Regions from separate parts of the Homo sapiens genome. Here region 2 is linked to region 1. Evidence: fine-mapped expression QTL. A gene starts in region 1. The other region holds a variant in brackets. All regions are shown on one strand. Distances are from middle to middle. Region 1 holds the start of CA3 (carbonic anhydrase 3). Region 2 overlaps CA1 (carbonic anhydrase 1).

Region 1 (2,915 bases):
CAAGAAGCACAAGAACCCTCAGGTATAGGCCATCGGAGTCTGAAGAATACTCATTTGAGTTTATTGTCATCTCTGTCCTATCGTGTTCCATTTCAGGAATGCATTGCCAACTTTTAGCTTGGACATGGGGCCGTTTTCACAGAGACCAAGTTTGGAGGGTGTGACATTCCTCTTCAATACATAAATATAATTATTCATGACTAAAGCAAAGTCAAATGTCATCTGCATTTTAAAAGATAAAGTGCTCCCTCTCCCCATTAATTCTGGTACTGTGTCATAAACCACATTTTGTCAATATGGACCTTGAAAACATCCATGTGATTCTACCTCATTGTCATACTTACTTGACCTATCATAAGTATCATCAAATACAACTCGGCAGGTCTTCCCATTATTCAGGATGGTCTTGGCAGAGCCACCATCATAAGACACAGACCATGGCTGCAGAGAAGGGTCATGCCTGATGTCTTTAGTATGCAGCTCAACGGGCGACTGGTTTTCCCCCTTGGCATTTGGGAAAAGTTCATGCCAGTGGTCAGGACCTAGGAAATAAAGTCGAGGAGATGTATTTATTTGGTGGCACAACCCAAGGCCTCTTTCTAATTGACTAAACCAGCAAAATACAGAGAGGCTAGACAGTGATTTCAAAAAGGTCTTAGGTTTCAGACTGGGCAATAAGAGACTTAGCATTCATTTCAGGCCTGTTGGTAGTTTTGTGAATAGCACACATGGAGACTATTTAACTCAGTGTGTTCACTCTGCCTGCTCAAAGGCTTATTTTTCAGATAAACTTTATCACATTTTTTTTTAACCAATGACACCTTCCATCATAGAGTTGGAATAAAATAATATTGACCACCTACATTTGAGCATTGTGTTGTGGGTTTCAGAGCACACCCATGTTCCTTTGCCTTGGATTAGGGAGAAGCTTAGGCAGAGCAGAGATTCTCACACCGGCACCAAGCTCAGGTTAGGTGCTTGTCCAGTAAAACAGAATAAGGGCCAGTCACACCTGACCTCGGGCTGTCTGACTTCTCAGAGGCAATGGGATCTTAGGCAAGTGATCCAACTTCTCTGCACTTCAGTTTTCTCCAAGGGAAATAAAAACTCCATACTAGGGAGAACCAAATGAGATGAAGGAAAAAAAGAAGCAGCAGCATTTGGCAGTTGAAAAGCCTCAGTAAATGTTAGGTCTTATTCTACTCCTACATTTTCCACTGCAGTCTCTAAAGTTGCCCATTTCTGTGCAATGGCAGGGCTCTCCTGGACTGGCATCCCTTCCTGGCCGGGTCGCGGCTGCCTGCACTCACCGTTGTGACTGGCGTAGCCCCACTCCTTGGCCATGGTCGCCTTCCTCCGTGCTGGACGGCTCCTGCTTTCTCTTCCCCTGCGTGGTGCAGAGTCGCCGCGAGCCCGCGCTTTTATGTAGCTCCCCCGCACACTGCATGGCCTTATTAGGTCAGCGAGGGTGGGGCGGGGGGCTAAACTAGATTGGGGTGGTGTTTGGGAGGCCGGGTAGAGGAAGCCAATGAATTCCAAGAGCGGGACAGCTGTCGAGGTGACGGGGGCGGAGGTGGGCGAAGGGGCACCCACGCCCCTCCCTGCGCTCTCCCGGGAGTCGTGGCTCCTGGCCCCTCCATCTCCTCTTCTTCTCTCTCAAAACTGCAGGGTTTCTAACCGGCGCCGACGTGCAGAAATGCAGGCGGCCCTCACCTCGTCCTCTCTCCTTCCTCCATGCATTCTTGGGGATGGGGTGGGGGCAGGGACAGGGTGTCGTAGTTGTGCTTGGCCACGAACTAAAATCTACATCCCGGCGGCTCTTGCAGCCTCACTTAAAAGTTGCTTCAAGCGCAGGCTGGCTGTCTGGCTACGATCTCTGGACACTTGTGCGAGTTTATTTCGCTCTAGCGATCCGGTTACAGAGGCTGGAAAGAACTCGTTTGTTTGCCTGCCCCCTAAGTTTGACTCCCTTTGCAGGCAACATGTAAAATCCTAGGAGCAAAGGATGGGAAGAAAGGGTCCGGAGCAGGGTGAGAGGGTGAAGAGGCCCTCCAAGTCCGTTATCCTTAAAGAGATGGCCCTTTCTGGAATCGCACCAGGCGGCATTTCCCAACCTAGCGGATCCTTTTGGCTTGCAGGAAACCGAGGGCTGGATCTCAGAGAGCGCCAGATATCCAGGAGATGTCTGGATCCCAGGTTCACGCGGAGCTGGAGACTGGGACTGATTTAGCCACACTCCCTGAGCTGTACCTCTGTTCATGAAAAATCAAGAATATTCTGAAGTATTGGAAGGCCACTAACATAAAATGAGTCATATTTCTTAAAACCTGTGGTCTTGCTCTCCAAGATACAATGAGAGATTGCAAGAAAAGAAAGAGGGAAAGATTTACAGAATGGCTTTTAATTTTTTTCTCCCCCTACTAAGTTGTTTTCTTATACATTGAACCATGCAAAGGAGAATAAAAGTGGCATATCTAGTGTGTCTACATGACAAAAGTATATTTTTAAATGTCTGGTTATGGTTCATATCAAAGAGGTCAGTAGTAGATATTTACAATTTTAAGAGTATATTGTAAAATTTCTCCTGTTTTAATTCAGTAATAATTTTTTAAGACAATGAGGAAAGATAAACCTAATTTCAGTGCTATCTTGAACAATATTTCGATATACATTTCCTTAATTAACTTTTATTGATAATAGTATTTAGTATTTGGGGATTACAAAACTCGAAAAGGAAATCGCTCGTCATGGCACAGATAGCTCATCCCTAAGGCATGTGGAATGACTGACCACACTCATAACCTGGACGCCAGGGGAGTCATTCCCCAGGGTATTTTTGTGACAAGGGATTATTTGATCCACACAATAGCAGTGTGGAATCAGGAACTAAGGCAGTTCGGAAAATCCAAGCAAAC
Region 2 (2,915 bases), 88 kb after region 1:
ACAGTACTAAAAATCTTTATGGTATGTCATTTAATCATCGACCTTTGCATTACTTCAACAGCAGCCTTACAAGTAACAAAGAATAAATCCTGTGCTTGCCTCTAGGTTTTCCACAGAGGTAGTGAAAAGAACTGGATTTTCAAGTTCACTTTGCAAGAGGCAAGTAGGAAGGAGACTGAAAGCTGCTCGTAAATCAGTAAATCAGTTGCTTTAGGCCGGACACCTGCCCTGTCAGTCTCAGCTACATCCAAATGGAAAAATGGGTGATCTAGGATTACCCTCAGGCGATGCCAATGGCCAAGGCACTAAAAGGTCACATCTATTATTGCTGGCATTTCTTTCCCCACTGGGCTGTTTTTTGAGTGGATGTCATACTCATCTCATACAGAAGGCATGTCCATCATGCTAGAGCAGTGCTGTCAATATTAGATCTAATGAAATACACCCTATTTTTCTTTTCTGCAAACTTCATTATACCTAGCTGCCGCTAAAAGATGATTCCTTTTTTCCTTACTACTCCAACATTACATTTTAGGGACATGAATCCTTAAGCAAAGTTTCATTCGCCACCTCTGATTTTAAAGTTAAAATGAGTCTTTTAAAAACATTAACCAAAATAAATGGCACAGTGAGTGCCATACCCAGAAGTGGCTACATAAAGCCACTACATAAACAGTCAATGCTCCCTTGGAAGAAGTCACTGGCCTTTACTAATAATATCATGTTCATCAGCAAACAATTTGGCAAGTGTGTAGTATCAGAAGTTGGGGGAGGACTAGAAACACAATCTTAACACACAAAAATAAATGTGGATAAAAAAGTGTAGCAACAGCTGTTGCCAGCTGCAAGCAACCACGCAGTAAAATCCTGTCCAACTCTGCAGGGGACTGTATGAGGACTCTTGGAGCCTGAGACAGGAGTGACAAAAGATCGCATTGTAAGAACATCGAACGTGAACCCTGGCTAGCAAGCACCCCTAGGAATTACCAATAGGAGGAATTGAGAACATTGCCAAGAATTCATCTTCCCCAGATCGAATCACTGCATAAAATCAGCCCTATTTGTTCTAAGAAGTCCACATTCATAAGCTTCATTCTAACTGAGCTTGGTTCTTAGCCTATAAGGCCCATAAGAACTCCTTTGGACTCTGTGGATCTCCATTTTAAAAGCGTTATTGACTCGAACCTGGGGAGGTGTTTTTCCTGGAGTTCTTTCTCACCAGACTAGTTCTGGCTGCCTCCTGGGTGATGATGGAAAACTGAGGCACTTGCCAACATGTCATCCCCTCATT[T/C]TGCAACCCTCAGGCAGTTGCACAAAGGCTATGTGGAACTTTACCAACTAGTTAAAGGCAGAGTCCGGGACAGTCTTAAAGGAATTAGGACTATTACAATGTCCAAGTGTTGCATATTAAGGAACTCCATCACAGGGCCAGATAAACTAGGTGCAAGGCGATGCAATTAAGAGCCTTTCATTCAACACCTCTTCACTCATAACCCTGGGGTTTTGAAATGCAGCGCCTTTCAAGTCACACTTGAAAACTGTTGCCTAAGCAGCCTCTCCAGAATTTTCTGATTCCAGAAGCTAAAAGAGCCCTAAGAAACCACAGGAGAAGCTGCCCTGCACTCCTTCTGTGGGAGTCACTGAGGACAGAAGAGTTACGTGATATCAAACATCTTTAAGAGGCCTGAAAATTCTTCACTTACTTAGAGCTAAACCCATCTTAGAAATCTGCTTATTGTATATGTTTAGGTAACTCTCATTTGCCTGGAGCAACTTGAAAAAAAATTTTTTAGAAAGTAAAACAGGAAATTCAGAATAAGACATGGCCTTGACCAGCTAAATTAATTGCCCAAGTAACCTTTTGCATAAAGGAAACAGGATCAGGAAGGATTTCCATTCAAACCTTGCTATTTTGCCTTCAGGTAAGAGGACAGGATTCTTTTCTAAAATTTTGCTGTGAAGACCCTAATAAATAATTTTGCTTTTTTCTCCTCCCTATTCTAGAAATAGAAGGGAGGAGGACCTATTTTGTTCCATCCTGTAGGCTGATCCTTTACACCTAGGACTGGAAGAAATAAGGTAGATTTTTGTGGAAATGTAGAATATGCATTCACCAGCTACACTGGAATCAGGAAGCATAAATCACAAGTAGCTTGGTCTCTCCACAGAAATGTGGAAATGGTAGGCCCTGAAAGAGCCTCAGTAGGGATGCATGTGATAGCTTCATGAGCTGGGCAGGCTAGCTGTGGAGATGCAAAAACCACAGCATGCAGCATGCATTCTCTCCAAAGATAATGGTGGTCCATACCCCATCTCCAGCACCCATGGACAAAATCAAGCCAAAGTTATAGGGTCTGTTTTAGGGAAACTACAATGACTGTTGTGAGGTAATAGTTTCCCACACGACTAAACTCTTTTGTGATAATAAAGTAAAAAGTAATGAAAAAAAGTTACTGTTAGTTTGATTTTATAATTTATCATAGTGGGAAGAATTCTTGACCCAGAGTTTAAAGACTTGACATTCCACTTTTAACACTTTCATCTGACTTTGGACAAGTGGCTTAATTTTCTCATCTGTGAAAGCCTCTTTCTTCCTTTTGAAATGGAAATACTGATATTTGTTTTTCTCAGCCTCCGAACTTCTTAAAAGTTACAAATTAAGATCATGTGAGTAAAAAAAGTACAGGAGTAAAATGGTCTCATTCTATTGGGCTATTCTAAAAGAAACTATTTCTATTTCTTTCTTTAAAAGCACCTGTTGTGTCCTTAGTGTAGAGGCTAAAAATAAAAAGATTTTTTAAAAATCAGAAAGCACTTGTAATCATTCCATTTATTCCTTCCCCATTTATTAGAAAAACCCCGGGGTGAGGGGGTCAGATTATGTCCCTTGATTTCAAGGCTGATCAGCTAATGTA

The links.
Region 2: its variant is fine-mapped to the expression of CA3 in lung (TOPMed, PIP above 0.99).

The regions. Positions count from the first base shown.
Region 1 is chr8:85,437,339-85,440,253 of GRCh38, reverse strand. CA3 (carbonic anhydrase 3) reads right to left here and starts at 1,395. Exons shown (of 7, transcript NM_005181.4): 1 at 1,311-1,395; 2 at 345-542. The coding sequence starts at 1,344. RefSeq lists enhancers at 1,036-1,558, 1,559-2,082.
Region 2 is chr8:85,348,975-85,351,889 of GRCh38, reverse strand. All of the region lies in intron 1 of CA1 (carbonic anhydrase 1), which reads left to right. Among named protein-coding and RNA genes, the nearest start is that of CA1, 28 kb to the left of the region's middle. The variant T/C (reference allele first, on the strand shown) is at 1,292.